4 linked regions of the Homo sapiens genome follow. The protein of the gene in region 3 interacts with the protein of the main gene of each other region in a pairwise test. Each region holds a gene or a part of one and is shown on either strand. Other genes may lie near its edges. The genes, in order: ZSCAN18, NEXN, ZSCAN22 and KCTD19.

What was found.
Region 1: the proteins of ZSCAN22 (region 3) and ZSCAN18 interact in binary tests that used the Homo sapiens proteins (3 or more experiments, as listed by UniProt).
Region 2: the proteins of ZSCAN22 (region 3) and NEXN interact in binary tests that used the Homo sapiens proteins (3 or more experiments, as listed by UniProt).
Region 4: the proteins of ZSCAN22 (region 3) and KCTD19 interact in binary tests that used the Homo sapiens proteins (3 or more experiments, as listed by UniProt).

What each region holds. Positions count from the first base shown.
Region 1 is NC_000019.10:58,082,740-58,088,620, forward strand, and holds the end of ZSCAN18 (zinc finger and SCAN domain-containing protein 18), read right to left. Parts: intron 4,666-5,881; coding exon 4,577-4,665; intron 4,270-4,576; coding exon 4,167-4,269; intron 3,528-4,166; coding exon 3,435-3,527; intron 2,641-3,434; coding exon 1,946-2,640; 3' UTR 1,117-1,945; downstream 1-1,116. UniProt on the Homo sapiens protein: May be involved in transcriptional regulation.
Region 2 is NC_000001.11:77,883,434-77,891,623, reverse strand, and holds the start of NEXN (nexilin), read right to left. Parts: upstream 3,001-8,190; 5' UTR 2,865-3,000; exon of another isoform or gene 2,356-2,864; intron 2,157-2,355; exon of another isoform or gene 2,085-2,156; intron 1-2,084. UniProt on the Homo sapiens protein: Involved in regulating cell migration through association with the actin cytoskeleton. Has an essential role in the maintenance of Z line and sarcomere integrity.
Region 3 is NC_000019.10:58,329,994-58,337,998, reverse strand, and holds part of ZSCAN22 (zinc finger and SCAN domain-containing protein 22), read right to left. Parts: intron 3,312-8,005; exon of another isoform or gene 3,248-3,311; 5' UTR 3,197-3,247; coding exon 2,794-3,196; intron 1-2,793. UniProt on the Homo sapiens protein: May be involved in transcriptional regulation.
Region 4 is NC_000016.10:67,295,402-67,303,406, reverse strand, and holds part of KCTD19 (BTB/POZ domain-containing protein KCTD19), read left to right. Parts: intron 1-69; coding exon 70-261; intron 262-1,484; coding exon 1,485-1,616; intron 1,617-3,833; coding exon 3,834-4,044; intron 4,045-5,743; coding exon 5,744-5,904; intron 5,905-7,147; coding exon 7,148-7,248; intron 7,249-8,001; coding exon 8,002-8,005. UniProt on the Homo sapiens protein: Transcription regulator which is essential for male fertility and for the completion of meiotic prophase in spermatocytes. Regulates progression of the pachytene stage of meiotic prophase and promotes the transcriptional activation activity ZNF541.

The sequences.
Region 1 (5,881 bases), 250 kb from region 3:
TCACTGCAACTTCCGCCTCCCCGGTTCAAGCGATTCCCCTGCCTCAGCCTCCTGAGTAGCTGAAATCACAGGTGCCTGCCACCACGCCTGGCTCATTTTTTGTATTTTTAGTAGAGATGGAGTTTCCCCATGTTGGCCAGGCTGCTTTTGAACTCCTGACCTCAGGTGATCCACCTGCCTCTGCCTCTCAAAGTGCTGGGATTACAGGCGTGAGCCACCGTGCCCAGACCATTTTAGCCTTTTTCTTACCAGAACCACACTCAGCTTGGGGCTTAAGATGGATAGGCTAAGAGGGGAACTAAGCTTGTAACTGTTGCGGAGACAGGCACTCCAGGTGACAGTTCACAGGCCCTTTCAAGTGACTGGAGCCATGGGATCATTTCTCTCCAAGGATTTGTGAGTAGAAGTGATGTGTGTCATCTCCCAGGTGAACAGGTTCGGCCTTCCCTACATGCTCCAAGGGTACAGTGAAGAGCAGAGCTACAACAGAGATGGGGCCTGGATCCCTGAATCACTGTATGGAGCAGAGTGCAAACCAATATATAAGCAACAGCAACACCAACACAGGACAATCGACTGTTAGTAAATAATTTTTTTTTCTTTTTTTCTTTTTTTTCTGAGATGGAGTCTTGCACTGTCACCTAGGCTAGGGTGCAGTGGCACAATCTTGGCTTACTGCAACCTCCGCCTCCCAGGTTCAAGCAATTCTCCTGCCTCAGCCTCCTGAGTAGCTGGGATTACAGGCACGCATCACCACAGCTGGCTAATTTTTTGTATTTTTAGTAGAGACAGGGTTTCACCATGTTGGCCAGGCTGGTCTCAAACTCCATGATCTGCCTGCCTCAGCCTCACAAAGTGTTGGGATTACAGGTGTGAGCCACCACGCCCGGCCCATGAATAAGTACTTACTAAGTCTCTGTGATTTGGGGGTCATTACAACAGACTGCCTGCTCAAACACAGTGACAGAAAAAGAGGCACCAGTTTCTGTATCTACAGGGAGCAGTTAAGTTTATGCGCAGGGAGCAGTTAAGTTTATGCGCAGGCAATGGGAATGATACTGTAATCTTGAGAATAAATGCAATCAATGAAAAGATCACCTTATGTAGCCCAAGGAGTTTAGTCTCCTTTGCTCAGACAGACAGATCTTTATTAGTGTTTTCAACTTATTTTGCTCACAACTTCCCAGCAAGAAATGTCTTACATTGCAACCAGTTCTCACATTTAGATGTATGGGTGAAAAGTTTCACAAAACAGTATTTGCCTTTACTACATGATGCATTCTGGCCTACTTTATTCTGCTTCATTGCTGTGTAATGCTGGTGACCACTTGCTAATTGATTTCCCATTTTACTAAATGGGCTGGGACCCACGGTCTGAAAACCCTGCCTTAGGCTGCAAGCATTTCTGTGATCTCTGCGAGCTACTCCATATAGGTAAACACACGCGAGGTAAACTAGGAAACAGCTTCTGCTTTTGCAGATTAGAAGTGAAGTTGACATCACGCCAAGTACGAAAAGGCTAAACAGCTGACAAAATTTCCACTTGAGCAACCCTGGGGAGCGCAAACAGGAGGAATCGGGGCAAGGGTGACTTGAAGAAAGCACTGGCAGATCACGCACTTTAAGGCAACTCTACACTGCACAATGTCAAATAACCTAGCATGGGGCGGCACTAAATGGCTGCAGGAAAGCCGAGTCTTCTTCCACATCCGGCGGCTCCCCTCGGATGCGAGCGCTGGCCCAGGGTGTGTTTACAGAGGTGAGGGCTTCCCGTGGACCCTTCTCGTTGGGAGCGCTTAGCCTCAGGAGCGGATTCAGGGCACAGGCAGAGGACGTCCACAAACACCACAGGAAGCCGCCACCCAGGGGCGTGGAAAGGCCCAATGCCTCGTCTGGGATTCACGGCCGGCAAAGCGGCCCCTCCGGAACGGGACAGCACAGCGGCTCACCTCTGCGCCTCTGGGGGTGCGGGGGGAGCCTCGCCCTCCACGCTCTCTGGGGGACCGCCCGCCCTAGCCCCCGCCTGGGCTTCGCGGGTGGACGGTTGGGGGCCCCGGGCGCCCCCCAGCGCGTAGCTTTTCTCCTTCTCGTGGGTCTTCTGGTGCTCGGCTAGGGCCAGGCTGAAGTGGAAGGTCTTCCAGCAGCCCTGACAGGCGTAGCGCTTCCGGCCGCCATGGCTGCTGTGGTGCTCCATCAGGTGCGAGAGCCACGCGAAGGCCTCCCCGCACTCGCCGCAGGCATAGGGCTTCCCGCGGGACAAGCCCGGCTCGTCAGCCCCAGGGCCCTGCCCGGCCTCCAGCCCTGCGCTGTCGCCGGAGCTAGAGACGCCCTCGAGGCTCTGCCCGTCCCCATCCTCGGGGTGCGGCCTCTTGGTTCCCAGTTTCGCCGTGCCCCTGTCCGGGGCAGGCTGCTGGATGACGGACTGCCTCTGCGATCCGGTGGCAGAGTCGGACTCCGCGTCCTGGGGGTCCTGCGGGTCCGGGGCCTTCCCAGGCTGCTCTTCCTCCTCCTCAGTGGTGCCCGACGGGGGATCGGCAAGGGCGTCCCCAGGGGGCGCCTCCGTAGGCAGCTCAGGCAGCACCCCCGCGGGGGCGGCCTCCTCGCAGGCGCACCCAGCGCTCTCCTGCCGCCTCCCGCCTTCTGGAACAAGGTCAGAGCCCTAGCGTGAGCGCCCCGCCCAGGGCCAGGGAGAGGAGGACCCAGCCGAGCCTCAGCTGCCGGAACAGCGCACAGGGCTCCGGGCTCTGGATCCCCGCGGGGCTCACGGCTGTTTGGAAGCAGCGCTGTCCCTCCCAGGCAGCCCTGCAGCGCATGCCCCGCGCCTGCTGCTGCAGATGTGGGACCTGGAGGCCTCCAACAACGGAGGCCACCGACAGGACAGGAAGGACAGCCCCACTGAGCCCGGGTTCTGGAAACCGCGCCTTTGGAGGTCTCCACCTGGCCACTAGCTTGGCCACAAGATGCACGATGCAAGGAGAGCCTGCTCAGAGCGCACCCTCCTGGAGGGAGGGGCCCGGCTGCCAGCGAAGAGAGTGGGGTCAATAGCTAAGGCCAAACCCCCCAGCGACAAGCCCCCTGGCGACAGGCACCCAGGGCCCTCCAGCCCAAGTCCGCCTCTAGGTGTTCTTGTTGGTGTGCTGGCACAGAGCCTCCAATGGGGCAGAACGGCCACCCCCGGGACCAGTCATACACAGATCCTGGCAACTAACACCACTGCCGTTTCCACCGACCAAGTCTTGGGGTGGTCTGTCATGCAGCAAGAGACCATGGACGTAACTGGATTCCTGCCTCACTCAGACACGGTGGTGGGAGAATGGTGAAGCAGTCAATGCTGAGGTCTTTGCTGGGGCTGATGGCGCTGGGAGGGGCCCCCTCAGCCTCTGAAGAAAAAGCAAACCCCACCCGGCCCTAACACCAATTCAACCCAACCTCACCTGGGAGGCTGCTTCCTTGTGGATCTCTTTCCACCAACCGGAGTTCCTCAGTGTCCAGCCTGGAGGCAGCGTCAGGCTGGGAAAGCTGATACCCTGAGTGGGGTTAAAAACCAAAGAAATAAAAGGCATCAACACAGAGTGGCTGATGGGTGTTGTGTGTCGTGGGCCAGCCAGGGCAGGCTGCAGCCCACCTCCTCTTCTCTGTACTGGGACCCCCACCAAGGCCACCTCCCTGTTAGGCCCCTGGACAGTGGAGCAAAGAAGAAGGCGAGGCTGGAAGGGCAACGGGGCAGGCGGAGGCAGGACTCAGAGAAAGCAAAGCTAAAGAAAGACATTGACAAAAATTGCTCAGGAGTCTGAGTCGGGGGGCCTCCCTAAAAGGAGGGTTTCTGGGGCAAGAACGTCTACAAAAGAGGAGACCCTTGATCAGGCCATGCAGGTGAGGCCCTGTATCTGGCAAGGAGGGTGGCAATGTGGGCGCCTTGGGGCCAGGAGGCCTTTCCAAATTCCGAGGCTTCAGTCCTACAGGCAGGGCCTGGGCAGAACTCAGATGTTTAGATCAGAAAGGGTGGGGGCTTCAGCGAATAAATTCAAGCTCCAACACGTGCAAGTTCAAATCCTGTAAGACATCACAGTGTCCCAGCCAAAGTCCCTGGGGTCACAGTCTCCTGCACCAACCCCTGCGGAAGGGGATGGGGAGTGGGGCGTGACCCCGAGGCAGGCGACTCTCACCCCACAGGAGCAGCTTCCGGTAGCTCTTCAGGTTCTCCTCGGCAGGGTCCAGGTGGCCCCACTCCCCCAGGTGCTGAGGGTCCTCTGGAAAGGACTTCAGCTTCTGAAACATTAGTCGTGGCTGAGACCTCCCACCTGCCCTAGAGAAGGGAGGACCCGCCGCAGCCCCACAGCCACAGGAGCAGGCTAGGAGCCAGCCCTGGCCAGGGACTCTAACCCAGGTGCACTGCAGGAGGCAGCCCCCTTCGCACCACAAAGATTCCGCCCTCACGCTCCCACCAGGGTGGGTTCTGGGCCTCAGCGCTGTGGACGTTTGGGGCCACAGCCCTCTGCTGAGCACTGGTGATGGGGAGGGGGATGCCTCTAAGCTGAGGCCAAGGCCCCTCACCCACCTGCTCGTGCCCACCCACCTGCTCGGTGTTGGCAGGGCCGTCCTCTTCGGTCTTTGCTTCTCTGACCCTCCTCTGTTCCAGAAACAGGGGGTCCGGAGAAAGCCAGGCTGGGGAGAAGGAGAGGCAGAGCTGAGGCAATGAGCTCCCTGTGGCCAGGTGCCCTCAAGGGTCAAGGAGCCCCCGCTGCCTCCCACACAGGCCCCAGTGTGCTTCTGTGACAGCAGCACCCAAGGCTCAACGGACACTACACCTTTCCCTGATTTACAAAGCAGCGCGGTGGCCACAGGGCTTGGGTGGCCCCAGAGATGCCCATTCAAGTCCACTGGATTCATGGAAATCTTTTTTTTTTTTGGTTTGTTTGTTTTTTAAAGACAGGGTCTTGCTCTGTCACCTAGGCTGGAGTGCAGTGGCATGATCTTGGCTCACTGCAACCTCCACCTCCTGGACTCAAGCAATCCTCCCACCTCAGCCTCCCAAGTAGCTGGGACTAAAAGTGCGGACCCGGCTAATTTTTGTATTTTTTGTAGAGATGGGGTCTCCCTATGTTGCCCAGGCTGGTCTCGAATGCCCGGGCTCAAGTGATCTGCCCGCCTTGGCTTCCCAAAGTGCTGCGATTACAGGCATGAGGCACTGTGCCTGGCCTTCGTGGAAATCCTAAAAAGCAACACCACATAGTGCTGGGCTGTATCCAGGCCAGTGGGCACCTTCCGTGCTGGTAATGAACAGCCACAAAACTTCTGGAAAACCACATGGAAGTTTCTATTTTATGTGAAATGTCGAACTCACACACCACTTGCCCAGTGGTCCTGAGGAGTCCACCCACAGTGCCCAGAGCCTCACATATGGGCACACAAGTCAGGAGGTGTCAGGGCAGCTTCACTCCAAGGGGCAGAGAGCCCACCTCTAGGATGGGGATGGGCTGAGCACGCGATGCTGGGCAACTAAAGAACCAGACCCAACCACAGCCTGGGGGACCCACCCCTCGAACAGCAAGCACTCAGACACAGCACACCACACACACAGAGCCCGACCCCAGGCCCTGATTATGCATGTGTGATGTGCAGGGAGACATGAGGGGACGTGCATCAGGACACTTGAGACCCTTTATTTTCAGAGGGTTCATGGTCGGGGGTTGGGAGATTCTTTTCTTTATGTATTGATGTTTCTTCACTATTTGTGGTAAGTATGGATGATCTGCATAATCTCTGAAGACTAATTTAATAAACAATGTCTAACATTCAGAGAAACTACAGGAGGAAGTCCCAATGATAGCATGGACCATGGAGCCCCTGACTCCCTGGCTGCCCTTCTGCCCTCTCCCAA
Region 2 (8,190 bases), on a different chromosome or scaffold from region 3:
AGGCCTATTTTGGCCAGAAAGAGTGAAGGGGAAGAAAAGACAGGGAAGAGGCCCAGGATGGACGGTGAGAAGTGAATTTCACCAACCTTGAAACCTCATATAGGGAGCCCCAATCTGCTTGTCTTCTAATCTAAGAGTAAAAAGGAAGAGATGTCAAGAAGGAAATAAAGGAGGAAGAAAAAGAATCACCTGTTGAGCACTTACTGGATGGCAGACACTGCATGGGATGCTTTCACATGTTGTTTTATTGAGATATGTCAATGCAAAAAGAAAGAGTTCTATGCATGGGAAAAAGACTTAAAGGAAATACATCAAAATCCTAACAGTAAGAGTGTCAGATTACAAGAGCCCCTTTTTCCATTCTCCATAATTTTTAACCATAAATATAACATGGTGTATTAACATTATAATACAAATTAAACTAAAATTTAAGGTGGATTTCTGGGTACAAATCCACCCACCCTGGAGTATAGAAAGTAAACTACTATAAATTAAGCCAAACTATACACTGAATATTTAAATAATAAAGGAAAATGTAGCCATTTCAAATGTATATAATATGTAACTATGCAATTATAAACCCAGAAAGAGAACATGAAAGAAACTACACAGGTGATATGGACCGCAGATTGATTAAATAAGAACAGAAATATGTGAAATTGTTAAGAATGTTATAAATCATTTTCTCTCCAAATTATAAACTACCAAGATGTTCTGTGTGTGTGTGGCCTACATAACTATAAAATAACAGTCCTCTCTTCTATAAAAACGTTTAGACTTTTACCTGTCTGTTACATACTTTTCCACATTCACTGCATTATTTTCTTTCTTTTAGGTGTGCACAACTCTCATATTTAAATAATCCCCCTTTTTTTTGTCTTTTAGGGTATTTCAAAGATAACAGGTATTTTTTTTAATAAATGAAGTATGTCATTATAGGCCGCTCAGATTCTAAGCAATCTGAATCCCCAATTAATGTCTTCCAAATATGCATATTTAGTTTTTATTCTGCTCAAAAATGAAACCCTAACCTAAATACTTCAAGTGAAATTTCAGGGGAAAAAGACTGTTCAAAAACCTAGATAATGCATTCCTTTGTTGATGCTAAATATAGTCATCTCAAGATGACATACATTTTGACAATGATCAGCCTTACATGTCAAATTTTCAAAAATAGCACAAATTCCATTTTAAGGTGAGCAGGAACAATTGCTATTCATTACATTTCAATTGAAAATGGATTTTAAAATATGAATCTTTTATTAAAACTGGATTACATTGTAACTATGATGAGGAAAACTGGATTTAAAATAATTTTGTTGTGGTTTTAGCTTAGAATTCTTTAAGGGAATTGCAGATAAACTACATAATTGCATGCATTTTTCTTTAAATTGTTCCTCAGAAGCATTAGTCAAAATATAAAATATCTGCAAAAATACGGTGTTAATTGTAAGGAAGAAGAAACTTAAACAGCTACATTGGTTAATCAAAGTTTACTTATACAAATTATACCTCCCCCCAAAAAACCTTTCTCTCATTTGATTAATTATGCATTTTTTCTTAACAATACCCCAAACTCAAAAGAATTTGAGACAAAGTTTTCTAACTGCAGCAGTTTAACCTGTAAAGGATAATGTTTAGCGGGGGAAATTATGTGGTCCACTCAATAACGTGTGACTAAGATATAAATAACGTGTGACTAAGATATGAACTTAAGTATAAATACTTAAGTTTATTTAATCACATTACCTAAGACATAGTTATGTTGTGACTCGAAGGCCAATGGGCCGCTGCTACATGAATTCATTAACAAAATTTAACGATGAATGATATTCCCGTTGTTTTGGTCAGGGAACTAATTTCTTTATTATGGCTTCTTTTCTCTACCTGTGTCTTCACCAAGGACATTTTGTTAGGACATATCCTTATGCTATTTTTACCTTGTTATCTCTCTGCCAACTTGGTTCACGTTGTGCTTTAATAACTATAAAATGAGCATCTCTAAGTCACTGCAGTAACCAACTATAACCTCTCAACTTCGTCATTTTCTTTATAAATGCCAATGCTAATGCATTTGTAGAACGTTTCACAATTTACAAACAGCTGGAATGGTTTGGCGTTTTCAAAAGCATATAGGCAAAGGGAGTTCTCAAGAGGTGACTACATTCTTCACTCACTTAAACTACGTAAACTTCGTAAACTTCCAGCCCTAGTTGCTCAACCCCCAGCATCCCACCTCGGGCAGAATCACGAAAAAAAAAAAAAAAAGGGTTGGAGACAGGAGTGGGGGGATATGCGGGGGTGTGGGGGGGGAGTAATAGGCTGTTAAATCATATTTCTCCCCATCTTCCACAGAGACCGATCAGAAAGGATTTCTTAACTGGCACTGCTGGCAGAGACGGAGACCGCGGCTGGGGCAAGTGGTGGGGGACGGCACTGAACTTCCCTAAGGACCCCAAGGGTTCAGCCGAGGGATCGGCACCCACTCCGCTCACAGAGGGCTCCCTCCCTACAGTAGGGAACGCACCCGAAACTCAGCCGACAAGGCGCAGGGGAGCAGGGCAAAGACATTGCAACCAGAAGCCCAAGGCCGGCCGACACTTTCAGACCCTGGGGCAGCCCCTGGTAGGCACCCCGCCGAGCCCGCAGGATGCGGCTCCAAGGCAGGGTTCGCCCGGGCCGGGGCCAGCGCGGACCACAGCTGTATGGCGCCCGGCGCCCTCCGGAGCTGCAGCGGAGCACGGCCAGAAGCCGCAGACCCCGAGCGCCTCTCTGCAGCCGCCGTTCCCGCCCCCGCCCCCACCAGGGGACCCGACACCTCCGTCTCCACTCCCCCCAGCCCACGTTCCCCCAACTCTTCTCACCCTGCAGGAGCCGGTGACCGGCGAAGGTACTTCTTTCCGCGTGGAGGGACTGTGCGCGTCCCGCCTGGCTGTGGGTAGGGGTCTGGGAGCTCTGGCCGCTAACACTTCTGCTCCAGCCGCTGGGAGTCCTCTGGCTGCCGCTGCCGCCGCCGCCGCCGCCGTCTCCAGCAGCAAGTTTCCATAAAAGTCCTGGTGTGCAGCCTGTTCCCGCATTCCAGGCGGGCCCAGCGCCGGCTGCAGCTGTTCCAAAACACAAGGCCAGTTCCCCCAACCCCCCACCTCCGCCGTTATCACCCGGAGTGGGGGTGGAGAGTTGAGGAGAAAAGCAGGGGAGGGGGACCGTGGCTGCCAACTTTCCGCCAGAATTTGTCTGTCTCCCGGCCCTAGGTGCGCGAGCTGACCCCCTAACTTTGGGCCTGCCTCCACCTCCAGCCAGGCCTGGGGAAGGAAGGCTGCCTCCGCCATGGGAAAGGAATGAGGCTGAAATGGGCTTCATTACCGGGCTGAAGCTGGCTCCCCCTACCCGCAACCAGTTTGCTCTGGGGCCCACTTCTCTCAGCTACTCTACCCGTCCTAGTTTCCAGTCAAGAAGCCAAGCCACTACATATCTTCTACTACCCTAAGCATTGACCTTTGGCCAAGTTTTCCTTTATTACAAAGAGCGTGGGGCAGCAATCCGGGAACACTTCATCTGTCTATTGCTCCCCTGTTCTTAGCTCCAGTCTTTAACTCTAAAAGGAGAGTTAAAAAAGAAGAAGAAGAAGAAGAAGAAGAAGAAGAAGAAGAAGAAGAAGAAGAAGAAGAAGAAGAAGAAGAAGAAGAAGAAGAAGAAGAAGAAGAAGAAGAAAGTTGAAGGCAGAGGAGGAGGAGGAGAAGAAAAGAAGGAATATATTTATATAAGTACAAATATCTTTATATTCCACCTTTTTCTTAATTGAAGGCAAACCATATCTGGTCTTTCTAAAGCTTCATAAAGGCATCTTTGACTATTAGACACCCACAGACCTTTTTCAACTTGGACCGCCAGCCTGTCAAACCCATCAGACAATACCATATTAAAACCCGAAATGCACACTCGGAGTATTTTTGGTGGACGAGATCTTTAATTCTTCACTGCACTTGAAAAAAAAATCGAAATGACATCCAGATAAAGAATAAAGGTAACCACTTCCACCTTCAGGCCCTAAGCAGACAGCGGTGCTCAGGTTATATTTCAGGGATGTTGAAAAGGCCTTCTGGGCTGGGCGCGGTGGCTCATGCCTGTGATCCCCGCACTTTGGGAGGCCGAGGCGGGTGGATCACTTGAGGTCAGGAATTCAAGACCAGCCTGACCAACATGGCAAAAGGCCGTCTTTACTAAAAATACAAAAAATTAGCCTAGTGTGGAGGCACACACCTGTAATCTGAGTTACTCAGGAGGCTGAGGCAGGAGAATCACTTGAAGCCAGGAGGCGGAGGTTGCAGTGAGCAGAGATCATCCCACTGCACTCCAGTCTGGGTGACAAAATGAGACTCTGTCTCCAAAAAAAAAAAAAAAGGCCGGGCGCGGTGGCTCCTGCCTGTAATCCCAGCACTTTGGGAGGCCAAGGCGGGTGGATCACCTGAGGTCAGGAGTTTGCGACCAGCCTGGCCAACATGGTGAAACTCTATCTCTACTAAAAATGCAAAAAATTAGCCGGGCGTGGTGACGTGCGCCTGTGATCCCAGCTACCTGGGAGGCTGAGGTTGAAGAACCCACTTCGCTTGAACCCGGGAGGCTGAGGTTGCTGTGAGCTGAGATGGCGCCATTGCACTCCAGCGTGAGCAACAAGAGTGAAACTCCCTCTCTCTCTCTGTTTCTCTCTCTCTCACACCCGTACACACAAAAGGCCTTCTACTCAAATATAACTCTGTTCCCCAGTCCCATCCCCACAGTATTTACTCAGGATGGAAACTTTTCTAAGGAGGGTAAGCCATTCATTCCTCGATTACAGAAAAGTTCAAAATTGGTAATTAAAATTATTTAAATGTACCGAACTACGGATAGTGATAGGTGGTCTTGGTAGTCTTGCTTGTGCCCTTGCTCTCTTTGATGCCATCACCTTGGCCTTCTTCAGTTCATGAAACTTTCTATGGGCAGTCTGGCTGCAGGGCCTTTGTATAAGTTGTTCCCTGCATGAAATCCTTTCTCCCACTTTCCCCTTCACCTAACTTCAACATATCCTCCCGATCTCTTCTTAAATGCTGCTTCCTCGGAGAAGGCTTCCTTGCATCCCACCTTTCTCCCCACCTTGCACCTCACCTTTCATCCCACCTTTCTCTTCCCTATATATATATATTCCTATTTATTTGCTTATTTATTTATTTATTTATTTATTTATTTATTTATTTATTTGGAGATGTAGTCTCGCTCCGTCGCCCAGGCTGGAGTGCAGTGGCACGATCTCAGCTCACTGCAACCTCCGCTTCCCCAGTTCAATCGATTCTCCTGACTCAAAAGTAGCTGGGATTACAGGCGCGTGCCACCACACCTGGCTACTTTTTGTATTTTTAGTGGAGATGGGGTTTCACCATGTTGGCCAGGCTGGTCTTGAACTCCTGCCCTCAAGTGATCCACCCACCTCGGCCTCGCAAAGTGCTGGGATTACAGGTGTGAGCCACTGTGCCCTGCCCCTATACATATCAATTTATAATTACATATTTATTTCTGTGATTTAAAGAAGTGAGTTGGCTGAGCATGGTGTCTCACGCCTGTAATCCCAGCACTTTGGGAGGCTGAAGCGGGTGGATCACTTGAGGTCAGGAGTTCGAGACCAGCCTGGCCAACATGGCGAAATCCTGTCTCTACTAAAAATATAAAAATTAGCTGAGTGTGGTAGCGTGCACCTGTAGTCCCAGCTACTCGGGAGGCTGAGGCAGGAGAATTGCTTGAAACCAGGAGGTGGAGGTTGCAGTGAGCCGAGATCATGCCACTGCACTCCAGTCTGGGCGACAGAGTGAGACTCTGTCTCAAAAAATAATAAATAAATAAATAACTAGAAACTTAACAATTTTTTATTTTTATATCCACCCAATAGATTCACCAGATTAAACAAAGCTCTCCATTCTCTCTGTAGAACACTGATAGCTACTCACAGCATGCAAGGCCTGCTTATTTTCCCACCAATTCATCATTCATTCATTCAACAGATATTCAGTTCTATATGCTAAGGATACAGCAGTGATAAAGGAAAAATCCCTGCCATTATGGAACATACATTCTAGTGAAAGAAGGCAGACAATAAGCAAATAAGTGAACTATGTAGTATTTAGTGACATGTAATATGGCAATATGGATAATACCAGAGCAGGGAAGTAGAGAATGCTGGAGGCAGGCTGAGTAGATGTTGTAATTTTAGATAGAGTGGCTAAGGAAAGCCTCATATGAGTAAAAGCCTTGAGGAGAGTGAGGCAGTAGGCTATGTAAATATCTGGAGAAGCAAATATTTGGAGGAAGAGTGGTCCAGGGATAGATACAAAGGCCCAGAGAAGGATTCTATCTGACATGTTCTAGGAAGAACCAGGAGGCTTGTGCGAGTGAAGCTGAGTAGGTGAAGGGTGAGGTAATAGGAGGTGCAGTGGGGAGCAGGAGACAAGACTACGTAGGATTTTGTTTGTTTGAGAATAAGTCTCGCTCTGTCGCCCAGGCTGGAGTGCAGTAGCATAAACTCTGCTCACTGCAACCTCCGCCTCCTGGGTTCAAGCGATTCTCTTCCCTCAGACTCCCGAGTAGCTGGGATTACAGGCACCTGTCACCATGCCCGGCTAATTTCTGTATTTTTAGTAGAGATGGGGTTTCACCATATTGGCCAGGCTGGTCTCAAACTCCTGACCTCAGGTGATCCGTCTACCTCGGCCTCCTAAAGTGTTGGGATTACAGGCGTAAACCAACATGCCTGGCCTTTTTTTTTTTTTTTAGAGACCCAGGCTGGAGTGCAGTGGTGGAATCACAGCTCACCGCAGCCTCTAACTTCTGGGCTCAAGCGATCCTCCTGCCACAGCTTCTCTGAGTAGCTGGGACTACAGGCATGCAACAACACACCTGGCTAATTTTTTAGTTTTTGTAGAAATGGGGTCTTATTATGTTGCCTGGGTTGGTCTCAAACTCCTGGGCTTAAGCATCCTCCCACTTCGGCCTCCCAGAGAGTAGGGATAATAGGCATGAGCCATTGTGCCCAGCCTCTTTTTGTACAGCATTGTAAAGATTTTGGTTTTTACTCTAACATGGGTGGTCTCTGGTAGGTTTTGAACAACATAGTGACATGATCTGACATGTTTACTCTCTCTAGCTTAAGTGCTGCACATACACCAAATGAGGCAAGAGAAGAAGCAGGGAGATCAATTAATTAGGAGGCTTCCACAATAATCGGAATGAGGAATGGGGATTTGGGCCAAAGTGATAGTTGTGAAGGTAGTGAGAAATACCTGGCATATTTTTTTTTCCTTGTTGCCTTTTTAGGTAGAAATGGTAGGATTTTTTTTTTTTTTTTTTTTGTAACTGAATGTGAGGTGTGAGGAAAGGAGGTTTTGGGCCTTTGATCTGGAAGAATGGAGTTGTAATTTACTCAGATAGGGAAGGTTGTGGGAAGAGGAGGTTTAGGCAGGGGTGGTAAGGAGCTCAGTTTTGACATGCTAAGTTTGAGATTACTAAAAATCCAAGATCTGCCCATTTGTATAAGCATTACTTGTATACTTATCACGAGTGATTAGGTTTGTTCTATGTCAGTTGCACGGTTTTGAAATTATACAAAGTAAACATTTAAAAAATGAAATTATAGGCCAGACATGGTGGCTCACACCTGTAAGCCCAGTGCTGTGGGAGGCCAAGGTAGGCAGATCACCTGAGGTCAGGAGTTCGAGACCAGCCTGGCCATGATGGCGAAACCCCGTCTACTAAAAATACAAAAATTAGCCGGGCATGGTGGTACGTGCCTGTAATCCCAGCTACTCAGGAGGCTGAGGCAGGAGAATCGCTTGAACCCAGGAGGCGGAGGCTGCAGTGAGCCCAGATCGTGCCAAAAAAAAAAATAAAGAAAGAAATTATAAAAGCAAAAATAAAGTTATAGTTTTTTATAAAAGCTGAGTTGAATGCTTTGAAAAGACTTGATAAAGGCAAATAGCTTACAAAAATTACCACCAAGCTAGGTGTGGAGAAGACAAATGTAAAAGATTGGGTACAAAATTGTACAAATCTAGGGAGATTCTGCAGTCAGTGCTTTTTAATGTACCTTTTCTCTCCTTTAAAAGTAAGGAAAACTCGAAATTCCAGATGATGATTTAGGGCAGGGGCCCCCAAACCCCAGGCTGC
Region 3 (8,005 bases):
AATTTTGGCTCAAGAGTCAAGAGGAGAAACCCTGATGTGGAACTGATCTGGAGACAGAGAGAGAGGGAGGGTCTGTCCTTGTCAGGACCCTGAGCACATGCACCCCTGCAGGCTCTGATCTCTGTGGGGTTGCAGTTCTGTCCCTCACACTCAACACCTTGCGTCTAGGCCTGGATGTGTCCCCTGCAGGCTCTGATCTCTGTGGGGTTGGAGTTCTGTCCCTCACACTCGACACCTTGCGTCTAGGCCTGGATGTGTCCCCTGCAGGCTCTGATCTCTGTGGGGTTGGAGTTCTGTCCCTCACACTCGACACCTTGCGTCTAGGCCTGGATGTGTCCCCTGCAGGCTCTGATCTCTGTGGGGTTGGAGTTCTGTCCCTCACACTCGACACCTTGCGTCTAGGCCTGGATGTGTCCCCTGCAGGCTCTGATCTCTGTGGGGTTGGAGTTCTGTCCCTCACACTCGACACCTTGCGTCTAGGCCTGGATGTGTCCCCTGCAGGCTCTGATCTCTGTGGGGTTGGAGTTCTGTCCCTCACACTCGACACCTTGCGTCTAGGCCTGGATGTGTCCCCTGCAGGCTCTGATCTCTGTGGGGTTGGAGTTCTGTCCCTCACACTCAACGCCTTGCGTCTAGGCCTGGATGTGTCCCCTGCAGGCTCTGATCTCTGTGAGGTTGCGGTTCTGTCCCTCACACTCAACACCTTGCCTCTAGGCCTGGATGTGTCCACAGGTGCTCAGTGAATTCTGGCTGAATGAGGGAATCCATCCAGAAGCCCACGATGGTGAAAATTTCTGCAAGTAGAACCCCAGGTAGAATATGGCTGCTGGGGGTGAGTACATGAGGTACCCATCTGGCCTCTCAAGCCCCTACATTGTAAAGTACTATGAAGGCAGAGTGTGGCGGAGGTGCTCTTGGAGATCAGAGTGTGCATGAGGTAGAGGAATGCTCGCACTGACCTGCCCTGCATGGGTGCAAAGGACACATAATCTGGCACATCTACTGGATGGATTCCAGGGAGGAGGCAGAGACAGGTGGAATACCCACTGCTCAAGTCCACAGTGGGGCTCAGCAGTGCAGAAACTGGACTCAAACCCCAGGTCTACCACCTTAATCAGTCCTGCCCTCATCTGGGACTCAGTCTCCCCATCTGTAAGCCATGGATGCTGTGCCGCTGGCCTTCCAGGGCCACTAACCACTATCAGGCTCTTGTCGTGCTGGGCCCCAAGCACAGTGGGTGACTTCCATCGCCTCATTTCAGCTTCGACCTGCTCTCAGAAGGAGGTACTGCTGTGATTCTGTTGCAGATGGGGAAACTGAAATCCAGCTGAGGGAAGGTGTTGAGTAACTGGTACAGGATCACAGTTAGCTAGTGGCCCAGTTGGGATTTCAGCTCCAGAATGTTCTCCTCCAGGTCCACAGGCAGTCTCCCCTGCTCCCCCAGCCATCTGCTTGGCCCTGTCTCCCCCTTCCTTCCTCTATCCAGAAACATCACACCACCTGCTTTTACCAGAATACACCAGTGCAAATCACACTGCCAGGCCTTTGACCCCACCATTCCCTCTGCATTTTACCCTTTCTCTGAGCTTTGGCCAACCCTGTGGGAGGATGGGGCCACTCCCTCCTTCCTCTCCCTGTCTCTGTGACATCTGCTTGGGCATAGACCAACCTCTGTTCCAGAGAGGCCTGTTTCTCCCAGAGCTGAACAAATTATCCTAACAGTTGCAGTTACCATTTATTTAATCTGTGCCAGGCACCATTTCAGGTGCTGCACGGGTATTGCCTTGTATCTCGCAACACCACTAAGGTGGGCGTTTTTATTACAATCCCCATTTTACCCATGAGTAAACTGAGGCACAAGGGAGTCACATGGCCAGGAAGAGCAGCAGCGGTTGGATCTACTGAGCCTTGATGATGCAGCTGTATCCAGACTCCACATTCCTCCTGCACACTGCACGTTTCCTCCCAGTGTGTGGTATGCCCACCTCCTATCTGTTGCCAATAGGCCAGGCCAAGCCCATCTGAGACGAGCCACCACTCCCTGCTCTGGATTGTCCCAAGGCTGGGTCTTCCCTGCATCCCACTGGACCTCCCTGGGTTGGGATGTTTGTGTGGGTCTCTGTGAGTAACAGTGCCCAGCTGAGCCTGGGGCAGGTCTGACCCACCCAAATCCTGGAGGCCAGCCCAGGGTGGGCATAGAGAAGGTACACAGGGACATCTGGTATTTCCGTCACCCCCAACAGCCACCCCAGGCACCCAGGCCCTCGTCTGGTTTCCTCTGAGAAACAGCCAGTTGCTCACTGTTAGTCCCTGGGATTTGGTTGGCCAAACACAAACATAAGATCCCAACCAGGCCAGTGGGGGCTCAGACCAGGGACCTCTTATTGTTATTACCCCGGGGTTTCTACATTGGTAAGACATAAGCCTGGGGTTCCTGGCTATCTTTAACCCCTTTGGAAAGAGAACCTAAAATAAGAATGAAGCTAACACAGAAAAAACCAACTGAGAAACAGAACAAGAGAGGAAGAAGAGAGTTCTGATGCTGTCAACAGATCTTCTGGATATAGCCGTATCTGCTGCCTCCTTACCCTTCTTTGCTTCAGCCCATTTCAGCTCGCTTTTGGTCACCTGCAACCAAAACACACCTGTCTACAACAGTGTGTGAGAGTTACGGTAAAGTACAAATGTGAGAATGGGTGCATGAGCAACCCCAAACCAGAGCCCTGTGCTCCCATGTTCCTGTCCAGGGTGTATCTCTGGTGTGCCGTGAAGCTGCCCACGGCGCCCCTTTACCTCTCTTGTCCAGCACCTGAGTCAGATCCTCCACCAGCACAGCGGCTTCCTCTCCGCTCTTGGGACTCTGGGCTCCCACCCAGGCTTGGATCTCTGGGGGCAGCGCACCCAGGAACTGCTCCAGCACCAGCAGCTCCAGTATCTGCTCCTTGGAGTGCGCCTCGGGCTGCAGCCACTGACAGCACAGCGCTCGGAGGTGGGCCAGGGCCTCGTGTGGACCAGATGCCTCCTCATAGCGGAAGTGCCGGAAGCGCAGGCGTGCAGCCTCAGAGTGAGCAATGTGGTCATGGCTGGATTCTCCGCCCTGGGAGAGGCTGGCTTCCTCTTCCTCCTCCACCTTCACTTGAAGGAAGCTGTCCTCTTCCCACGGCACTGGGCTCAGGGAGTGCTTGGGGATGGCCATCGGGCAGCAGTGCTCAGTGAGACACAGGATGCCGGAGCCTTGGAACTGGGCCTGCAGGAATGTCAGAGCTTCAGCATCACATGGAACCTGGGCCCTGCCTCATGCCTACAGAGCAGGGAAAACACAGGCTTGTGGCCCGTGAGATGTGAAAGACTCTCACAAAGACATAGACAATCCTCATAATTAGGACAGCACCCACTTGGTGCTGAGCACTGTTCTAAGCTACTACTGCTTGCATGTAGACTCATTTAAAACTTACAACAAACACCATCCTGGCTAACATGGTGAAACCCCGTCTCTACTAAAAATACAAAACAAATTAGCCAGACGTGGTGGCGGGCACCTGTGGTCCCAGCTACTCAGGAGGCTGAGGCAGGAGAATGGCGTGAACCCGGGAGGCGGAGCTTGCAGTGAGCCGAGACTACGCCACTGCACTCCAGCCTGCGCAACAGAACAAGACTCTGTCTCAAAACAAAAACAAACAAACAAAAAACTTACAACAAACTCAGGAGGTGGGACTTTCTACCTATTTTATGGATGGAAAAACAGACACTCAGGAGGAAAATATTTGCCCAAAGTCCCTCAGCTAGTGAAGGGTTAACAGAGAGCTAAGCTACAAACCCACGCAAACCTACAGCCAGCCTGTTTAAGGCGTGCTCCTCCCCAACAGAGCCAAGTCTTTCTCCCTCTGTTCCCCAGGTAGCCACATGGTCATTCTCTCACTTTACTTGCTAATTATTTTGTAGTGTTTGAGATTGATACATAATTGACTTTCGCCTTTCCTCTTTTCTAATGCACATATTTAAGGCTATAAATTTCTCTCTAAACACAGCTTTAGCTATACATCACAAGTTTGATATGTTGTATCTTCATTATCATTTAGTTAAAAATATTTTCTAATTTCTGTTACAATTTCTACCTTACTCATTAATTATTTTTTAAAATTTATTTTATTTTTTTGAGACGGAGTCTCCCTCTGTCGCCCAGGCTGGAGGGCAGTGACGCTATCTCGGCTCACTGCAACTCCGCCTCCCGGGTTCAAGCAATCCTCCTGCCTCAGCCTCCCAAGTAGCTGGAACTACAGGTGTGCACCACCATGTGAGGCTAATTTTTGTATTTTTAGTGGAGACGGGGTTTTGCCATGTTGGCGGGGCTGGTCTCGAACTCCTGACCTCAAGCGATCTGCCTGCCTCGGCCCCACAGAGTGCTGGGATTACAAGCATGAGTCACCATGCCCAGTCCCATTGGTTATTTATTTAAAACTCTCCTGCTTCATTGCCAAACAACTGGGGGTTTTCTAGTTGTCTTTTTATTACTGATGTCTAGATTAAGTCTGTTGTGGTCAGAAAACATGCTACAATGGATTTCGATCATTTAAAATTTGCTGAAACTTGGTTTGTGACCCAGTGTATGGTTAATTTTGGTTAATGTTCCATGAATACTTGAAAATAATGCAAAGCTGTCTTAGCTATGACACCAAAAGCATAAGTAACAAAAGAAAAAATAAATAAACTGGACTTTATCAAAATTAAAAGCTTTTGTGATTTGAAGGACCACATCAAGAAAGTAAAAAAGCAGCCCACAGAGTGGGAGAAAATATTTGCAAATCATATATTTGATAAGGGACCTGTATCTAGAACAACTCCATAGTAAAAAGATGAATAATACAATTTTAAAATGAGCAAAGAATGTGACTAGACATTTCTCCAAGGAAGATACACAAATGGGCAATAAATACATGAAAAGATGCTTAACATCACTAGCTACCAGGGAACTGCAAATGAAAACCACAATGAGATAGCACTTCACACCTGCTGGGATGCCTATAATCAGATAACATGTGTAGGCAAGGATATGGAGAAACTGTAATCCTCATATGCTGCTGCTGGGAATGTAAGATGGGATAGCCACTGTGGGAAGTACAGTCTGGGAGTTCCTCAAAAGCTTAAACAGAGTTACCCCATGACCTAGCAATTCTACTCCTACGTATAGACCCAAGAGAAATGAGTATATGTCCTCACAAAACTTTATACATAAATGTGCATAACAGCATTACTCATAACAGCAAAAAAGGAGAAACAATCCAAATGTCCACCTGATGAATGGATAAAATGCTGTATATACCTATAATGGAACACTATTCACCATAAACAGAAATGAAGTACTGATTAATGCTACAACATGGATGAACCTTGAAAACATGATGCTAAGTAAAAGAAGAAAGACACGGCAGGGCACGGTGGCTCACACCTGTGATCCCAGCACTTTGGGAGGCCGAGGTGGGTAGATCACCTGAGGTCAGGAGTTCAAGACCAGCCTGGCCAACACAGTGAAACCCCGTCTCTACTAAAAAATACAAAAATTAGCTGGGTGTGGTGGCAGGCACCTGTAATCCCAACTACTCAGGAGGCTGAGGCAGGAGAATCTCTTGAACTTGGGAGGCAGAGGTTGCAGTGAGCCGAGAGTACACCACTGCACTACAGCCTTGGCGACAGAGGTAGACTCCATCTCAAAAAAAAAAAAAAAAAAAAAAAGCATATTAGTGTTTGTCAGAGGCTGAAGAGAGACAAAAATGAGAGTGGTTGCTAATAGGTTTGGGAATTTCTTTTGGGGATGATAAAAATGTTCTGGAGGCCAGGCGCGGTGGCTCACGCCTGTAATCCCAGCACTCTGGGAGACCGAGGCGAGTAGATCACGAGGTCAGGAGTTCAAGACCAGCCTGACCAATATGGAGAAACCCCATCTATACTAAAAATACAAAATCAGCCGGGCGTGGTGGTGCATGCCTGTAATCCCAGCTACTTGGGAGGCTGAGGCAGAAGAAACCCTTTAACCTGGAAGGTGGAGGCTGCAGTAAGCCGAGATTCTGCCATTGCACTCCAGCCTGGGCAACAAGAGTGAAACTCCATCTCAAAAAATAAAATAAAATAAAAATACAGCTTTTAAAAAAATAATGTTGGCCAGGCACGGTGGCTCATGCCTGTAATCCCAACACTTTGGGAGGCCAAGCTGGGCCGATCACAAGGTCAAGAGATCGAGACCATCCTGGCCAACATGATTAAACCCCGTCTCTATTAAAAATACAAAAAAATTAGCTGGGCGTGGTGGCGTGTGCCTGTAGTCCCAGCTACTTAGGAGGCTGAGGCAGGAGAATCTCTTGAACCCGGGAGGTGGAGATTGCAGTGAGCCGAGATCACGCCACTGCACTCCAGCCTGGCAACAGAGACTCCATCTCAAAATAATAATAATAATAATAATAATAATAATAATAATAATAATAATAACGTCAGCTGGACGCGGTGGCTCACACCTGTAATCCCAGCACTTTGGGAGGCTGAGGCAGGTGGATCACAAGGTCAGGAATTCAAGACCAGCCTGGCCAGCATGGCGAAACCCCATCTCTACTAAAAATATGAAAACTAGACAGGCGTGGCAGCGGGGGCCTGTAATCCCAGCTACTTGGGAGGCTGAGACAGGAGAATTGCTTGAACCCGGGAGGTGGAGGTTGCAGTGAGCAGAGATTGTGCCACTGCACTCCAGCCTGGCCGACAGAGTGAGATTCTGTCTCAAAAAAAAAAAAAAAAAAAGTGCATTTGATAATTGTTGGGTGTTCTCTCCCTTATTTAAGTCAGGCCTCTACACAAAAGACGCCTTATCAGTAAGTCTCTGTGCTTCTACACTGCTTTATTTGCTCTTTACCACCTGATGTGTGATACACGTATGTGGTTACTTGTTTATTATTTACTTGTCCCTGTTGGAGTATCAGCACATTAAGGGCAGGGGTTTTTGTTTAGGTCTTTGCTTTATCCCCAGTGTCTACAGCATTGCTGGGCACATACATCAATAATAATACTTTTGTTCAGCACAGCCCCATTAGGTGCCTACTCTGTGCCCAGCACTGTACTAGGAATGCAAATACGGGGAAGGCATGGGTGCTGGGCTCAATGGCCTCAACGGAAGGACAGCGACCAACACATGATAAGATAATTATGATGATGGATATGGGTATAGTGTGCAACAGGAATAAAAGAAAATGGGAACAGACAGTCAGTGGGAACCTACCGGCTACCAGGCCACACTAGCCTTTGGCATCTGTTATCCCATTCAAGCCTTAGCTCCACCCTGTGAGTCAGTATTACCACTCCCATTTTCCAAGTTGGGGAAAGTCAGCTGCTAGAGTCATCTGGTCAGTAGGAACAAAGCTAGTGTTTGAGCTCAGGCTATCTGCGATCTTTCCTCCACACTCAAAGCCTTTCCAAATTCTAGAACTGTGAGCACTGAATGCTGGTCAGGGACAGCAAAAAACTACTTTCATGTACTATTGGTGAGGGCAATCAATTAGAATATCTTTGGCAAACAATTTGGCAGTATGTTGTAAGAGCTTTAAAATGACTGTGCTCTCTGCCTCAATATTAATTCTACTTCTCAGAATCTAGCCCCATTTCTAGATGGGGGTGCTACCGACATTCAGAGGGAGATAATACTTTCTTTTTGAAAAAATTCTTTTTTTCTCCAGACGGAGTCTTGCTTTGTCGCCCAGGCTGGAGTGCAGTGGCGCAATCTTGGCTCACTGCAAGCTCTGCCTCCTGGGTTCACGCCATTCTCCTGCCTCAGCCTCCCGAGTAGCTGGGACTACAGGCACCCACCACCACACCCAGCTATTTTTTTTTGTACTTTTAGTAGAGACGGGGTTTCACCGTATTAGCCACGATGGTCTCGATCTCCTGACCTCATGTTCCGCCCACCTCAGCCTCCCAAATTGCTGGGATTACAGGCATGAGCCACTGCGCCTGGCCGCATGTAGGCAAT
Region 4 (8,005 bases), on a different chromosome or scaffold from region 3:
GAAAGCCCTGCTGGAATCAGATCCCTGGCTTCTGAGAGGTGGCAACACTGCCTGCATGTTCTCTTCCAGGCCTACATGATAAGGCACCTCTGGGGCTCATGGACACACCCCTGTTAGACACAGAAGAGGAGGTGCACTACTGCTTCCTGCCCCTAGACCTGGTGGCCAAATATCCCAGCCTAGTGACTGAAGACAACCTGCTGTGGCTGGCTGAGACGGTGGCCCTCATCGAGTGCGAGTGCAGCGAGTTCCGCTTCATTGGTGATTGCTCTGTCCGGGGTGGGGTGGGGGGCGGGCTGATAGGGCCCATTCACCCCTCCCCATCACATGTCCCACAGAGGCCCAGCTTGGTGCTCAGGGCCTCAGGAGCTTCCCTGGGCAGAGGTAGCGGAAGCATGACAGAGCCTTCCAGGAAGCAAGCAGATTCCAGCATTAGAATCTCACTAGACTCAGGGCTGTTTTATTCCCTATTTGTTTTGGGATGGCCTGGCTGTAAAAGTGTCAGGCACTGGAAAGTGCTAGGGACCACAGGAGTTGGTGTGAAGGGCAGGGAGCTCAGCTGGTTGCCAGTCGGCTTCTCTTCTTACTCTGCCCTTATGTATCCAGCTGGTCTTCCGGCCTCAGTTCCTCTCACCATAAAATGAGGAATCCAGATTGTTTCAAAGGATGGTGCTACCTGCTCTTAATGTCAGCAAACTCAGAATAAAAGGGAAGGAGGGTGGATGGTGACAGGTTCCCCCAGAGTCATAGCAGAATTGTCCACTTGAGGTAGTGGCCTAAGGAAGGATGAGATTTTCCACCTTTGACAGAGAGAGCCTCTCTCCCCCTACTGCCCCAGGATGAGCTCTGTTTGGGATGTGAACTGAATGATCTCTTTGACCCCAAGATGCTACTGCTGTCTAGATAGATAGGGCAGTAAACACTCAAGTTACACTAGGAGCCCAAATGTCTGGAACCCCAGTCATTCATATTCATAGTCACCTAGAAAGTTGTCTGTGATGTGCTTCTGTATCTCTAAGTTGATTCACACAGGACATTAGCGTTGGCTCCATCTCTGCCTCCCATACTGCAGTCCAGGCAGGGACAAACTGCAAGTGCCACCCGCCAGCCCAGGCTCGGCCGGGCCCCTCCTCTCTAAGCAGCAAGACAACTCCCTCTTTTGGAATGACCTGCTCTTGGGTCAAAACTCACAGGGTAAGTCTCAGGGCCAGTGTGCCCACCAGGAGGGCCTGGCTTGGGAGCCCCAGGCCAAGCCACGGGAGGCCACACCCACGGCCTCAGACACAGGAAAACAAAGTAATGTGGGGTCTTTCGCCTTGAAAACCACACACTCAAAGCTAATCTAATAAGGTATGTTGATAAGTTGTTTCAGAACAAGGAGAACCTAGGATAAGTTACAGCACCAGAAACCTGCCAAAACCAGGACCTACAGCTAAACCAGAAATAGCCTCATTAACTCACTGTGTTCCCCTTTGTTTTTCAAGTGAATTTTCTTCGCTCACAGAAGATTTTACTACCGGATAATTTCTCCAACATTGATGTATTAGAAGCAGAAGTGGAAATTCTGGAAATCCCTGCACTCACTGAAGCCGTAAGGTGGTACCGGATGAACATGGGTATGTCGCCAGGAAACCTTGGCTCCCCCTCGACAGTCTTGGCTTGACCTGGAAAAGCCAAGAACAATCTTCCCTCCCACAATCACTTCGGGCTTTGGGGGTTAGTGAGAGGATTGGGTTTTCTGGCTGACTCTGAATCCAAGAAGAGGATTCACAGCCTGAAACCCTGTGTGCTGCCCTGCCGGCTCAGCCTTCCCACTGAGGGTGGGGAGTGGGCAACCAGCCAGGGGTGTAGAAAGCCCAGCCCAGCCTGGATCAGGAGGAGCCCAGCCTGGGTGGGGAGCCAGGCTGGAATGTCCTGGGCCTGAAGGCAGGCTTCTCAGGGGCAGGGGAGGTCTGCCCTGCTTGTGAAAGTGGTGGGGACTAAGAGCACCCACCAGCCACTCCCATCCTTCCTCTTCCAGGCACGGTTGGAGGTGTGGGAAATGCTCAGTGCTTCATGCATCTCATCCACCCCCAAATTCCCTCGTCACCTCACGTGGAAACCCCCGGCTGCTGTGCCTGTTTCTGCCTATTCCTGACGCTTGCTGACCCCTGTCCAGCCTAGGCCTTCGTGCTCCCAGCCCTACCTCATTCCAGCTTGTTCTTCCCCTCATGGTTTCCTCAGGGCTGTTCATCATTCCATTTCCCAACTCCACCTCCATGGAAGCTACTGTGCATGTTATAGGGCGCAAGCTACCTGAGCATGGCTTCAGCCACCATCCCGAGAATGTGTAGAACTGCATTGCACATGGGAAGTTTGGCCTGGACATCACCAGACATTTATCCCATGGCAATCAGGCCTTTCCTTATCTTCAGGCATAGATTTCCCAGCCTTCTCCCAGACAAATAGAAACCCATCCTCTTGGCCAGGCGCTGGTGGCTGATGCCTGTAATCTCAGCATTTTGAGAGGCCAACGCAAGTGGCTCACTTGAGGTCAGGAGTTCGAGACCAGCCTGGCCAACATGGTGAAACCCCATCTCTACTAAAATACAAAAATTAGCCGGGCATGGTGGCACGCACCTGTAATCCCACTACTTGGGAAGCTGAGGCAGGAGAATCGCTTGAACCCAGGAGGTGGAGGCTGCAGTGAGCCGAGATCATGCCACTGCACTCAAGCCTGGGCAACAGAGTGAGACTCCTTCTCAAAAAAGAAACCCATCCTCTTTGTGGGGAGTGGCATGCTCCAGCAGGTCTCAGGACCCTGTCCCAGGGCCTTATAATCCGCTTAAGATGGTGTGAGTTCAGCCCCTTCCCTCAAAGCCTTCTACTCCTCAGAGAACATAGATCATTGTGAGATGGTAGCGTAGTCCCTGCTCCACAGAGCAATGCAAAGATGGAGGAAGTGTGTTGACAGCCAGGCTCTGGGAGCTGGCAGCACTCCTCAAACACAAAGGGTGGCTTTAGCTTTCTACAAAGCATCACAATAAGGGAAACAGCTGTGGTAACCTTGGAGCTGGACAGAGCTGACCTCAAATCCTAGCCCTGCCCCTGCCTAGCTTTGCAGTTTAGGGCAAGATACTTCATTAGCCTCTCAGGGCAGGTTCTTCAACGTGAAATGATGATAGCACTATCCCCTCTTGCAGGGTTGCTCTGAGGATTGGAGATGATCCACGAACATCCCCCAGCAGTGTGCCCACTGGCACATTGTTGCCACGGGAGCAGGGTCCTGAAGGCTGTGATAACTGTATTCTCTGGACTGTACCCTAGGCCCACTATAGGAGAAAAAGGTCCCATCCATAAACCAGCAACCCAAATACCCACCCTGAAAATAATGCCACACAGTATGTCTCTGGGGGAAATTCTGCCCAGGAGAGCCAGCAACAGGGGCTGTGAATCCAGGAAGCCTGTAACACACATTGAGTTTCCAGGCCATGGTTGCCGTTCTTTACCTTTGGATGGTTACAGAAGAGCTTGGAACTAATGAAGACTCCTGCAGAGGCTAGGGCCAGATGGCTGCTTTCCTGAAACTTAGGAAATTCAGATGCTAGTGATACAGCAAATGAATCCCCCCACTCCCAACTCACCTCCCAACAAATAGTTATGACTTCTAAGCCTGAGTATACAAAAAAATTATACTAATTTTGAGAAGATCTTGATTTGGACTGTGCAAAGAAATATCCTTCCTCTGAGCCTCCTCGGTACAATGGAGGCAGCAGTAGGAACCGAGCCCCAAAGCCTCCAATCCAGCTATGACCATGGGGGGCCTAGGAGTCACCCCTTTCTCTCTGACACAGGTGGCTGTTCCCCGACCACCTGTTCTCCCCTGAGCCCCGGGAAGGGGGCCCGCACAGCCAGCCTGGAGTCCGTGAAACCGCTCTACACAATGGCCCTGGGTCTGCTGGTCAAGTACCCGGACTCTGCGCTGGGCCAGCTTCGCATCGAGAGCACGCTAGACGGAAGCCGACTGTACATCACAGGGAATGGCGTCCTCTTTCAGCACGTCAAGTGAGGTCCTCCTTAGGGCACACTGAGTCCCATCACCCTTGGCTCTGCCCTTCCCTCTAGGAATAACCTGGGGCCTTTCCCACTAGCCAGAGGTGAAGTGTGTCCTTGGGGCCAGCCCATCATTTTAGCCATTACCATCACCAGCACCGCCACACTACCACCAGGTTAGGGCCTCAAAGGAGAGGGCTAGTGCCAAGGTACAAGGGTTGCCAAGGTTCAAAGGCTTCAGACCATTTCCTATTTCTGTCCTCTGCAGTCCATTTCCCTGGTTCTAGCCCTGTGCTAGGTCTGAGGTGACCAGGCCACAGTCAGGGAGCTGGGTACCTCCCTGTGCAGACCCCTCTACAAAGGTCCTCCGCCACTCTTGGGAGGCTCACTGGACACACAGAATGGCCAGAGCCAGGGGTGAGCCCCCTTAGAAGCAGGGCAGGGCAGGCCAGGCCAGGCCAGGCTTCCCAGAGGTGCTGATCCTCAGCCTTTGCCTTATGGGATGAGCTCAGGATGTCCTCATTAGTGCAGGGGCAAGGAATCCAACCCTGTTTTGTAGATGGGCAAACTGAGGTGCAGAACAGCAGAGCAACTCTCTGAGGGTCACAAAACAGACTGGCACCAAAATGGAAGGTAGAAGTGGGTTTTCTGGAGCCCCTGGGAGAGGGTCAGCTGACCCTGAATGCTGTCTTTTCCCAATATTGTTGTTTTGGGCTCTTTTAGCCCATAAAGTCCATATCTTTCAGAGATGTCCACCCTGATGTCACAGAGGGCAAAGACAAGTGCCTTGGAAGGGAGGGTTTGGAGAAGGGGGTTGATGTTTAGACCCCAGCCTTTTTCCAAGACCGTGGCAGGCTGCAACACAGTGACTGAGATGTCTTGGGCAGATGCGTATGAGGCAAGAAGGGAGCGACTGGGCCCTGGGCTGGCCCTGGAACCGGAAACACGGCCTGGAGACATGAAATTAGTCCATTTAGAGGGCTTTGCTGAAATAAGTCAAGCTCAGCTCCAAAAATGTGACCGGTTGTCCAGGCTTACTCTCCTACAAGGTTAAACAGATTTCCAGTTAAAACAAGGAAACGGGCTGGGCGCGGTGGCTCACACCTGTAATCCCAGCACTTTGGGAGGCCAAGGCAAGCAGATCATGAGGTCAAGAGATTGAGACCATCCTGGCCTACATGGTGAAACCCCGTCTCTACTAAAAATACAAAAAATTAGCCGGGCATGGTGGCGGGTGCCTGTAGTCCCAGCTACTCAGGAGGCTGAGGTAGGAGAATGGCATGAACCCTGGAGGCGGAGCTTGCAGTGAGCCGAGATCGCGCCACTGCACTCCAGCCTGGGTGACAGAGTTAGACTCCGTCTCAAAAAAAGAAAAAAAAAAAAAAAGAAACCCCGTCTCTACTAAAAATACAAAAAATTAGCCAGGCGTGGTGGCGGGTGCCTGTAGTTCCAGCTACTTGGGAGGCTGAGGCAGGAGAATTGCTTGAACCTGGGAGGCAAAGGTTGCAGTGAGCCAAGATTGCGTCACTGCACTTCAGCCTGGCGACAGAGTGAGACTCCATCTAAAAAAAAAATACAAGGAAACGATGTTAATGATGCCTGATTTAAGCCAGTGTTGCGGCAAGGCATCCTAGGCATGGAAAGTTTACAGGCTCGACTCTCTTGGGGTACAATGCTGATGTTCTTCATGACAGACCTTTCCTCTGGGCAGGAACTGGCTGGGGACTTGCCGGCTGCCCCTGACAGAGACCATTTCCGAGGTATATGAGCTCTGTGCCTTCCTAGACAAAAGGGACATCACCTACGAGCCAATCAAAGTTGCTTTGAAGACTCATCTGGAGCCAAGGACTTTGGCACCCATGGATGTGCTCAGTAAGTGAGAAAGCTTCTAGGTTTGAATTTAGCATCAGGGGAGTATCTGGGAGATTGGAGGGAATAGATGATGTGGCCAGGACGAGGAACTGTAGATGGAGGAGGAGGGGAAAGCCAGGCCAATATTTTGGATTTTTACAAAAGGGAAACTTTCATATTAAGTGCTCCCTCCTCACCTCCAAGCCCACAATTCGTCTCCAGCAGCAGACAGGGCTGTTACCCAGTCTGGGGCCACGCAGGACCCCCAGGGCAGGCCTGCCTTGACCCTGGGAGCTGACTTGCTGTGCTTCTCACAGCCATGCAGGGAGGAGCCTCCTCTGTTAAACAGAGCTGTCCCTGGGTCCATTTAACAGCCAAAAAATAGGTTCAGAGAAGAAAACTCACTCAAGTTACACAGTGGTCAAGCTGGGGTTTGACTGAGTCCAAAGCTAATGTTGTTTTCACCAGCTGCCTATAACTTCTTATTACCAAAAATTTGGGGGACAAAGTTTAAGCTGTATTACTATCATTTAGCAGCATCCAACATTTATTGAGTACCGGTCATATACCAGGACAGCAGTAGACACTGGCGGCACAGAAGTAAGCAACACAGACTTAGTCCCTTTCTTCCTGGAGTTCACGGTCTAGTTCTATACATCTTATCTCTTGGTTATATAATCTAGTTATATACCCTTCATTCATTACAGAGCTCATTAGAAACTGCTTCCCAAACATCAGAACAAGGCCTACATATAGTCATCTCCAGGAAAAGGGTTATGGGTTCATCTTTCCAGCATACAGCCCCCATTCTCCAGACATGCCTAGAGGCTTAGTCTCATAAAAGTGACAGGGATTTGATGAGAGTTGGCTCCATGACATTTGCCAAACCACGAACATAAACACACAGAGAGAGATTCCTAGCTTCAGTCTGAGTGGCCACATGAAAAGCTACACACTCAGGACACACCCAACCAGAAACCGGAGGCAGCTGGCATTGTAGGTGGACAGGGTCATCAACCCAGCTTTCCTGAGGGAGGAGGGTCAGGTGAAGAGGGGCAGTGCCCTTTCCCGCCTCACCACCCAGGAAACCTTGCAGCAAGCAAGGTTTATGTCAGGGATTTCTGCTGCTTCTCAGACTAGGCAACACAATATGACTGAGGAAAGATATTGAGACTTAACGTGAAATACACTACTAACCAAAGGGCCCTACCTGCTTTCCCTTCTGGCCATATGATGATGTGTTCTATCTCCTGGATTCCCATAGATGAGTGGACGGCAGAGATCACTGTGTATTCCCCACAACAGATCATCAAAGTGTATGTTGGAAGCCACTGGTACGCAACCACCCTGCAGACACTGCTGAAGGTACTGACGGCCTCGGCTGCCCTGCTCCCCATCTGGCATCACCACCTGAGCTGCTCTGGGGGCCATCACCTGGCCCTCACACAGCTTCCAGCACTTGCTTAGAACAAAGGCTTTCCCGCCAGGCACGGTGGCTCATGCCTGTAATCCCAGCACTTTGGGAGGCTGAGGTGGGCAGATCACGAGATCAGGAGTTCAAGACCAGCCTGACCAACATGGTGAAACCCCGTCTGTACTAAAAATACAAAAATTAGCTGGGTGTGATGGCACGTGCCTGTAATCCCAGATACTTGGGAGGCTGAAGCACCAGAATTGTTTGAACCCAGGAGATAGAAGTTGCAGTGAGCTGAGATCGCGCCACTGCACTCCAACCTGGGTGACGGAGTGTGACTCTGCCTCAAAAAACAAAACAAAACAGAGCACAAGTGGACCGAGTGGCCTGCTGGGAAGGCCCTCCAGAGTTTGCATAGGGAGGGGGCCAGCTCTGAGGGACCTGGACTGAGAAGGAGGTACGGTGGGCTTCCAAATGCCTTGAGAGGGTGGTCTAGGGGCCATCAAAAGTTGAAGCAGGGATGATGTGCTTCTCCCTGGAAGCTCTGCTCCCCACCATGGTTCCTTGTGACTGACAAGACAGGGAAATGGAATCTCAAAGCCTCTGCTCTAGTGTAGTTGGAAAAGGGGAGTGAGAGAAGATTGACCTGCCCCTTCGCAAAGACCTAGCCTCTGAGACTGAGTCCGGTGTCCAACCCCCTCCAGTATC